Regions from separate parts of the Homo sapiens genome. Here regions 1 and 3 are each reported to be linked to region 2. The links are microRNA targets in miRTarBase. Many come from high-throughput screens and were not tested one by one. Region 2 holds a microRNA gene; each other region holds the end of a gene's coding sequence.
What was found. The annotated mature microRNA hsa-miR-6784-3p reads UCUCACCCCAACUCUGCCCCAG and lies in region 2 at 2,127-2,148, shown strand. An mRNA with a match to its seed (bases 2 to 7 or 8) in the 3' UTR can be bound and repressed. Matches are read on the target gene's strand: a 7mer-m8 pairs with bases 2 to 8, a 7mer-A1 pairs with bases 2 to 7 and ends in A, and an 8mer does both.

Region 1: the mRNA of JAKMIP2 is a reported target of hsa-miR-6784-3p. The part of its 3' UTR that is shown has no 7-base or 8-base seed match.
Region 3: miRTarBase lists TRAF7 as a target of hsa-miR-6784-3p. Seed matches in the 3' UTR shown: 8mer at 1,880-1,887.

What each region holds. Positions count from the first base shown.
Region 1 is chr5:147,599,195-147,602,442 of GRCh38, forward strand. JAKMIP2 (janus kinase and microtubule interacting protein 2) reads right to left here. Exons shown (of 22, transcript NM_001270941.2): 21 at 2,547-2,617. The coding sequence ends at 2,567. The region is part of intron 3 of JAKMIP2-AS1 (JAKMIP2 antisense RNA 1); the gene reads left to right. Among named protein-coding and RNA genes, the nearest start is that of JAKMIP2-AS1, 41 kb to the left of the region's middle.
Region 2 is chr17:45,113,292-45,116,514 of GRCh38, reverse strand. It overlaps MIR6784 (microRNA 6784), which reads left to right and starts at 2,082; the gene lies at 2,082-2,148. PLCD3 (phospholipase C delta 3) reads left to right here. Exons shown (of 15, transcript NM_133373.5): 9 at 1,025-1,171; 10 at 1,271-1,421; 11 at 2,149-2,265; 12 at 2,910-3,076. RefSeq lists enhancers at 1,123-1,988, 2,855-3,223.
Region 3 is chr16:2,175,961-2,179,208 of GRCh38, reverse strand. TRAF7 (TNF receptor associated factor 7) reads right to left here. Exons shown (of 21, transcript NM_032271.3): 19 at 3,029-3,160; 20 at 2,825-2,944; 21 at 1,080-2,649. The coding sequence ends at 2,635. CASKIN1 (CASK interacting protein 1) reads left to right here. Exons shown (of 20, transcript NM_020764.4): 19 at 1-307; 20 at 563-2,029. The coding sequence ends at 659. Among named protein-coding and RNA genes, the nearest start is that of CASKIN1, 19 kb to the left of the region's middle. RefSeq lists an enhancer at 880-1,381.

The DNA of each region.
Region 1 (3,248 bases), not on the chromosome of region 2:
ACTGATTAATGATTTTCCAGGCACTGTTATGCCTTTGACATGCATAACCTCGTCTCATTCTCTCAACACAACACCCTGCTGTAGGTAACATGATTATAACCATTTTGTGGAATAGGAAACCTAATCTTGGGTGGATTAAATAAACTGCCTATCATCACACAACTAGTAAATGGCAGGACTCAAGCTTTAAATTATATCTGACTTGTAAGCTGTGCACTCTAACCTCTCAGCCATTTTACTGCATATGCAATATATTTATTGCCCAGATTCACTGTCACATTCATCGGCTATATTATTAATTATCATTATAGTCATTCACTTAACAGACAATTACTAAGTGTCATTTATGTGCTACTTTGGAGGAAAAACATCAAATCTTGTACATCCCTCAAGGAGTTACACAAAATGGGAAAAGGTACAGAGACGAGCACACTGTAATTTCAAAAGCCAGTAGCTAAGTAGTACTATACAAATAGATGACGCTTCTGATGAGGATACATATGAACGCCAATGTTGCTTGAAACATGGGAGAAAGGCCCTTTTTTACTTGTGAGGCAGTTTGGTGGTTAGAAGTGGATTCTGGGCTGAGGCTGCCTGGGTACAAATTGGTAGCTGGATGGTCTTGGGAAAGTCACATGCTGTAGTTTCTCCAACTACAAATTAGGGATAAAAGCAATACCTATCCCACAGGGGATTTCATGAGGATTAAATGTATCTATTACTTAGAACAGCTCCCAGGACATAATCAGCTTTGGCCAGCATTGATGTTAATGCTGAAGCCTATCCATTTTCTACCTAGTACTTACAAGGTTTGATATTTCTTCTGTAAACCACCATGTATTACTTGTCTCTTACTGAAATTTATTTTCCCTACTTTTAAAATTTATTTACTGTTTTTTTTTTTTTTTTTTTTTTTTGGTGGGGGGAGGCTGTTTGTTTCCTGATACTCTGGTCATTTTGATCCTTTACTAGTGAATCTCCCTCCACTTCAATTTGGATATTCCCATTCAATTTAAGAGACTTAGTCCTCTTCTTTCCATCCTACAAGGCTGTCATCTTTCTTGACAGACAAAGGATAGTGGTCAATCTGAAAAGAAAATATTTTGGAAGAAAGAATATAGCCAGAGAGTGAGTTATGAGTTCATATATTTTCTGAGCATATCTACTTAACTCTTTGCTTGTATCAGGTTATTCTAAAGCACTTTTACTTGTCTGTTCCATATCCAGGTAACAGATCTCATACCTATGGAGGGAGAAAGTGCCTCTCTTCTGTTTTCCAACTTGCTGTAGAAAATGTTAAATCACCTGAGGTCCAGGAAAGATCTCAGGCTAATATAATTTAATAGGATAATCAGAGTTGACATGAACCATGATAAATGGATTTAGAATAGCCGCTGGCCCTTCTTCTTTTTGAACAGTGGTATTGAGATTTGTGGTTTCCCTATTTGGCCGGCCATCAGAATCACATAGCGTGCTTGTTAAATACAGACCAGTCCTTGCTCTCATCTCTCCCACCCTCTCTCTATCTCCCTCTATCTCCAGTGATCTGACTCAGCAAGTCTGAGGTGGGGCTTAAAAATCTATATTTTTAAGCACTGGGAATCACTAAGATTATTTATGCATGTATTCATGAGACATGGACTTAATAATAGTAATTATAAGACTCTCCTTTTTGTTTTCTATATTGACATTGAAAAGTAACTTATTTGAAAACAAGATCCACTTAGCCTGCTTTCTTGAGTTTTAATGAACTCCCTAGTCTCTACTGGGGAAAAGGGGTGAAAAAAACAGCAGTCATTACTAGCTTGTTAGATTAGCAGAATCAGAATTTTCAAGCTGAACGCAACACTAAAGATAACGTCATTATTTATTCACTTTGCAGATACAGATGCAACTTTCTGCATAATGGGAGACTATGATGAGAATGCTAACAACCACAGACATTGTGACTTCCCAAAGTAATACAGTTAACTGGAACAGATTCTTGATTCCCAGAATATTTGGTTTCTTCACTTTTCTAATAATCACCCAAATAGACTGGATCTATTTCTCAATTTATGGCATTTATGCTAACCAAAGCAAGTGTGTTTGTATTTTAAAAATATAGCATAGTTAAAATATATAGACCAGGCCTGATGGCTTGGTCAACACTTTGGGAGGCTAAGGCAGGAGGATTGCTTGAGCTCTGAAGTTCAAGACTACCCTGGGCAACAAAGTGAGACCTTGTCTCTACTAAAAATAATAATAAAAAAAAATTAGCTGAGCATGGTGACACATGCCTGTAGTCCCAGCTACTCAGGAGGCTGAGGTTGGAGGATCGCTTTGAGCCTGGGAGATTGAGGCTGCCAGTGAATGATCTGATTGTGCCACTGTATTCCAGCCTGGGTGACAGAACAAGACTCTGTCTCAAAACAAAACAAAACAAAACAAAACAAAACAAAACAAAACAAAACAAAAAACTAAAGAAAGGCATAGTAACTATAGGTAACATCCTTTTTATCAAATACCTCTTAGAACCACATTTTGAGAATTAAATGGAATCTTACCTTTAAGAGGCACCTTGACATCAAGGCCATAGAATAAAGGCAAGAGAGAAGAACAAGAATAGAAACAGAAACTGCAGAAGAAAAAGAAGAAGATTATGTAAATCTGAATTTCTGTAGTGCCATTCAGGTAGTACAAAACCTCAGCTTTTCCATATTGCTCAAGTCTAATCACTTCACACATGAACATCAAGCACCTTTTTGTTTAAAAAAATCCACACCTTTTATGTAGCTACTGACAGAGTATCAGTGTTCAACTAACATTGATTCATACATTTTAGAATCATGAGGTGGTCTTACGAACAATTGGTCTAAGCTCCTAATTTTACAGATAAGAAAAATAAGCACAGAGCAGTAAATCAATAGTTTAATTTCATACAATTTTATGGCACAGTGAGGGCTAAAGCTTAGCTAGCCTGAATCCTACTTTATTATATATCACTGTCTCTTTCATGCACAAGAGGGTATTTCAAAAACACAAAATACGATCAGAACATACACTTAATCATGCAGTACTATCTTTTTTGGTTACTATGATAGGTTTTAGGATTAAGGCACAGCTGGGAGAATATTAATCTGTAGGCTAAATATATACTTAATTACTCACAGTGGAACATTTCAGAGAGAGAAATGGACACTGTTAATAATTACATTGGGTTGATGGGTAAAAACTGGGTCTGTCCTAGGCAAGTGGGGACATCTGGT
Region 2 (3,223 bases):
TCTCTGTTCCTCTGTTCATCTGAGGTCTGCCATCCCCTGGTCTTGTCCTTCTGCTGCCCTCTGGCTCTCCATTCTTGACTAGACCCCCCCACACACACACCCTCTTCTGTAACCTGGCTTTGCCCTGCTGGCCCTGTGTCCCTGCCCGTAGAGTCCTGCAGGCTCTGCCATTCCCACCTGCAAGGCCCCGCTTGACACTTTCTCCACCTGGAAGTCCCTTCTCGGCCATCCACACTTGCCAAGCGTCACCTGCTTAGAATTCAGCTCAACTTCAGCCGCCTCTTCCTGTGGCCTTATCCACTTCCCCAACTCTCGGGCCTGAGGCGGCCTCCTGCTCTCCCCCAGACACCAGAGCGCGTCCTCGGCTCTCTCCAGACATTTATCCTGTCGGGCTCCTTGAGAAAACTCTCCTCCTACTTCCAATCCCCAACATGCAGGCAGGGTTGACTCACCCTCGTGTGTGTGTGAGATGTGATTTTTGTTATTACTGTGAAAATCACACCCGTATGGTAAAAGAAAACTGAGCTGTACTAAGGGACGCGATGAGCAGTGCTCCCCTCCCTCCACTGACCTGTCCTCTTTCACAAGAAGTAACCATCTCTAACTTTCTTGCATGTCCTTCAAGAATTTCCCCACACACATTACCTGTGTACATATGTGTACTGTCTTCTCTTTTAAATGGTACCAAAAAAGGACATGTGATTCCAGGTTGTAGCCTCACTTCTTCCACGTAAGATCTTCTTTGAAGAGGGTCCCTTTCCTTTCAGTCCTGAGCTGTCGCGTGCATTGTAGTGGCTGCTGTGTATATTCTGATGTTGAGGGACCTTATTAAGCATCCCTTCCTGATGGCCTCCCGGGCCATTCTCCACTCTTTCCTATTAGAAACATCGCTCATCTCTGTGTCTCCTTTCCTGCCTCCCACCCCTAGCCAGCCCCTCACAAGGCGGTGGTTGAATAACTGACTGACTGGCTGCCACAGGGGCGAGAAGGCCTAACCCTTCATCCTCCACGTTGGCCCCCACAGCAGCTGAAGGGCCGGGTCCTGGTGAAGGGAAAGAAGTTGCCCGCTGCTCGGAGCGAGGATGGCCGGGCTCTGTCGGATCGGGAGGAGGAGGAGGAGGATGACGAGGAGGAAGAAGAGGAGGTGGAGGCTGCAGCGCAGAGGCGGCTGGTGAGAGCTGGGATGGGTGGGGTGGGGAAGGGGGGGAAGGTGGGAGGACGGATGTGGGAAGCGGGGGCCAGCTGAACCCCGCTGAGCCTGGTCTCCTAGGCCAAGCAGATCTCCCCGGAGCTGTCGGCCCTGGCTGTGTACTGCCACGCCACCCGCCTGCGGACCCTGCACCCTGCCCCCAACGCCCCACAACCCTGCCAGGTCAGCTCCCTCAGCGAGCGCAAAGCCAAGAAACTCATTCGGGAGGCAGGTAGGAGCTGGGGCACTGGGTGTCTGGGGGCGAGAGGGTGAGAGACCTCCTGAAGGGAGTCTGGAAAGGAGTTGAGGGGGCTTTGGGGGACAGTAAAGAGGTCAAGAGGACCCCAAAGAGGGGCTGGGCTGAGGGAATGAGGGCCCCGCACATGCCAGGGTGGATGGAGGGGAGTGGCACGCTGAGGGCGGCCTGCTGTCTGCCTTCAGAGCCCTGTGGTGGGGCCGGCCATAGAGGGTGATGGGTCAGGCTGGGCTGGGGGCTGGGGGAGCCCAGCAGCTGCTGCAACACTGGGGAGGAATTCCTGGGGCAGGTGATGCTGAGAGGACACATCACCTGGAGGACTAGGAAGCAGCCAGGTGAAGAGGGGAGAGCGCTTTCCAGACAGGAGGAACAGGTTGTTGAAGGCCTGGGGCCTTGGCCTGGAGAAGAATTCCAGGAACCACAGTGGAGCTGGAGGGCCGTGGGCATTCAGTGTACTTGGTTGGAACTTTGTCAGGAGCTGGGAATTGGGGGCTGGGGATGCAGGGCCAGGCTGTGTGGCTGGAGGGGGTCCCTGCAGCCTCCTCAGTGAGCTCCCCTCTCACTCTAGGTCAGAAGAGAGTGAGGAGCGGGGGCAGGGTGACCTGGGGACGGGCTTGGGCTCTGTTCCCTGGAGGTTACAGGCCGGGGCTTTGGGTGAGGGACCCCCGGAGTCTGTCACGGTCTCACCCCAACTCTGCCCCAGGGAACAGCTTTGTCAGGCACAATGCCCGCCAGCTGACCCGCGTGTACCCGCTGGGGCTGCGGATGAACTCAGCCAACTACAGTCCCCAGGAGATGTGGAACTCGGGCTGTCAGCTGGGTAAGTGGGGGCCACAGGAATGAGAGCAGGCGGGGTGCCACAGTGTGGGGGAGGCCTCAGCAGTGAGGGGCCCACACAGCCTTCCAGACGGTGGAAACACGCATTTTGTTGATTATTTTTAAAGTTGCCAGCAATGTAGGTGGGAAAATCAAATCAGGCTCGTTTGTTCTTGACAGTGTACAGGTCTCGCATTTTTATCATGGTAGAAATTAAAATCTCCACTCCCATGTCCCCCGGACACACACAACCCCCACACACCTGGCAGTCCCACTAAGTCAACACTGACAAGGGTGGGCTCTGGGGGACGCTGAGCCCCACCAAAGGAGGGCTGTATCGTCTCCTTGGGGTAAGGATGGAAACCCCAGGCTTCCTCAGACCCCTGGCTCTGACCCAAGCCTGGCCCTGAGGGTGGGGGCTTTTTTAGTACCTCCCACCCCAGTCTTGAGGGATCCCAGGGCAGAAGTACAGGTGACAGTGGGGGCTGGGTCCATGACCCCCTCCCCTAAAGTCATGGTGGGAGCAGAGCAGCACTAAGCAGACAGTGGGACCCCAGGCCCTTTGTAGAGAGGAATGCAGTCCCCTGAAACTGAGTAGTGAGAACAGGGCCGCTAAGAGCCCCTGCTCTGACCCTGCTGTGTCCACAGTGGCCTTGAACTTCCAGACGCCAGGCTACGAGATGGACCTCAATGCCGGGCGCTTCCTAGTCAATGGGCAGTGTGGCTACGTCCTAAAACCTGCCTGCCTGCGGCAACCTGACTCGACCTTTGACCCCGAGTACCCAGGACCTCCCAGAACCACTCTCAGCATCCAGGTCAGCAGGCTGGAACGGGCCCCAGTGTGGGGTCAGACTGGTTCTAGAAAGGCTCTTTGTGAGGTGGAGGAAGGCAAGGGAGGCTGGGGACATTTGGAAGTGAGGGTGGTGTGAGCTTGAGGCCCATGAGGGGATGGCCAAGGTGGG
Region 3 (3,248 bases), not on the chromosome of region 2:
CACCCGCACCCTCGCCCGCGCGACAGCCGCCCGCCGCCCTCGCCAAGCCGCCCGGTACGCCGCCCTCGCTGGGCGCCAGCCCCGCCAAGCCCCCGTCCCCCGGCGCGCCCGCGCTGCACGTGCCCGCCAAGCCCCCGCGAGCCGCCGCCGCCGCCGCCGCCGCCGCCGCCGCGCCCCCCGCCCCGCCCGAAGGCGCCTCGCCAGGGGACAGCGCCCGGCAGAAACTGGAGGAGACAAGCGCGTGCCTGGCCGCGGCGCTGCAGGCGGTGGAGGAGAAGATCCGGCAGGAGGACGCGCAGGGCCCGCGGTAGGTGCGGGGCGGGGCCTGGCGGGCGGAGGGCGGGGCTCGGCAGAGATGGGCGGGGCTCGGCAGAGATGGGCGGGGCTCGGCAGAGATGGGCGGGGCTCGGCAGAGATGGGCGTGCCGTGAGCGGGGCTCCGCCGAGGTCGTCGTGCGGTAGGCGGAAGCCGACGGAGATGCGGGACGTGGGCGTGTCCTGGTCGGGGTGGGCGTGGCCAGACCCGCCCCGCCCACTCACGCCCCTTGCCCCGCGCCCCGCAGCGACTCGGCGGCGGAAAAGAGCACTGGCAGCATCCTGGACGACATCGGCAGCATGTTCGACGACCTGGCCGACCAGCTGGATGCCATGCTGGAGTGAACGCCGCCTGGCCGGGCCCTCCCGCGCCGCCCGGGCCCTCCCCGCACACTGACCTATACCTCAGGATGGGCGCGTCTGGGCGCGGCGCGAGCGGCCGGGCAGGGCCCTGCAGAAGCACAACTCCGGCCCCTGGACCCGGGCCGGGGCGCCCACCGGGGACCGCCTGGCCGGGGGCTCCAAGGGCTCTAGGCAGACCCTGCGCCCGCGGGTCCTCCCCACCTGCTGCTCCCCGTGCAATACCTGCTGGGCCTCCTGCCCGCGCGGGAGGGGAGGGCGCCCCGGGACCAGGGATGGGGCAGCGCACAGGCCCGGGCCCAGCACAGAACTGCCCATCGGGACGCCCGGCCAGCCGCTCGGGCGCAGCACAAGGGACAGGGGACCAAGGTCAGGGCCCCCCTGCCCCACCGCACCCCCAGAATATAAGCTATCAAGAGTATTAATTTATTGGGAATGAGCTGAGGCGGATTTCCCCAGAGAAACAAAAAGGTATAACTTTAACAAATATATATTTAAAGAAAGAAATATTATTGATTCTATAGAAAACCATTTACCAACTGAAAGGACACGAAGTCTAGCTCCGGACAAAAGCTGTTAGAGGCCCAGGCTGTCTGCCTGCGGTCCTTCCTCCGGCCAGAGTGGAGGCCCCAGGCTGCTAGCACAGGTGGAAGGCTGGGGCCCGGGGGCGGGTGCTCTGCCGGGGGCTCCTCCGTGCTTCTCTCCTAAGTTCTCTGCGCCCCAAGAACTCGAGGTTGTGCCTTGCTCTCGGCGGCCGTGTCCTCCTCCTGGCGTGGCTGCGTCCCAGGGCGCGGGTGGGTTTGGTGAATGTGGGTGTGTCAGCGTGGCAGCCACGTGGAAGCAGGGCATGTAGCAGGCCAGGCCACGGGCTTGCAGCTCCTCTGAGGGTGTGCCTGGCCCCCTCTCCAGGGGCTGTGCAGGCAGCCCATCCACCCCAGTGGAGTTCCCACGGACGCTTCTGCTCATGGTCCAAGGCTGTGTTGTGTGGTCATTCTCGCCCTCCCTTTTCCTCTCTCCTCCTGCCCCCTCCAAGAAGTACTGACTGGTCTCCTCTATCGTGTTTGCTGATCCACAGTGTTGGGCACAACTTTGACGTTTCTTAAAAAAAAAATTTAAAAAATGCCGAAAACCAGCGATTGTGGTGTGGGGCGGGTGGAGGCGGCTGGCGGAGGTGGCGTCCCGGCGTGCAGGGCCCCTTCCTGCTGTCTCACCCCGTGTTTCCCTGCGAGTGGACGTGCCCAGCTGTCCCCCCAGGCCTCTCCTCAGAGGGCGGCACAGGCTGGGCTCCAGCAGGTGGGCAGGGGAGGTCTGGGCAAGGCGCTGCCGTCGGCTGTCAATAAACAGCAGGAAACAGAGGTGCCTGGCTCACTTTTTGGGGGCACATGTGTTGGGGGAGATGGGACTGGAGGCCAGCAGCTTGGGTGTGACGAGTTGCCTCCTAGCAGGGAGGGGAGGCCCCGGAGTGGGCCGAAGTCCTGGGGTCCACCAAAGGAAACTGCCCCATGCCCCCCCACTCACAGCAGCCAGTGCCTGTGCACACCAACCTCAAGGCCACACACAGCCCCCTTGTCCCGAGGAGCTGTCCCCACTCACAGCCACAGTCTGTGGAGCATTTATTTCAACCAGGAGGTAACCAAATCTACATACAGTCTAAAAACGGTAGAAAAGGTGAGTAAAAAGGCCCTCGCTCCATCTAGGGTGGGGATGGAGGGTGGGGATGGAGGGTGGGCCGGGGCAAGCGTCGTACCTGGCACCCAGAGAGGGGCTGGGCAGCAAGGACAGTGCCGAGTAGAGGGAGGCTCGCCGAGCATGGGACGGGGAGGGCACTGCCCGGCTGCCAGAGCCTGTCCACCTATGCCCACGGGGCAGGCAGAAACCCCGAGACCACCCCATGTGGCCAGCCTGGCTCAGAAAGGTCCAGGGCTGGTTCAGGGGAAACCACAGCCTGGCCTGGATCCTGTTAGCAAGTCCAAACCTGCAGAGAAAGGGCTGCTTCACCAGGATGTCCTGCGGCCGGCTGCCCTGCCCCAGCCACACCTGCCACACGTACCTGCCCTCCACCACTTTGTGCTGGGGCTGCCAGCTCCTCGTCCCCACCCCCGCTCCATCCTGTGCAGCCCCTTTGAATGGCCTGAGCCACGGGCACTGACCTTCACAGTGCTATCCACAGCCCCTGAGAAGAGTCGGCCCCGGGACACAGCCAGCGCGGTGACACTGCCCTGGTGACGCAGCAGGGTCTGCGTGCAGATCATGTTGTCCATACTCCAGACCTGGGGGCACATGGGACGTGAGGGCCCGCCGGAGCTCAGCTGCCAGCCCTCTGAGCCTCCTGCCACCGCTGGGCCAGCACGCACCCTGAGGGACCGGTCGTAGGATGCACTGAAGACTTTGGTCTGGTCTGGCGTCGAGATGACCGCCAGGGCATACACGGTGCCCACGTGGCCCGTGAGGGTCCGCACCTGCTCCTTGGACTCAATGTCCCACACCTGGGAGGGGTGGGCACAGGCAGGTCAAAGACACTGAGCAAGGCGGGGGAGACGGGGCCACAGTCTGGCCTTGCACCCAGATGCCCAG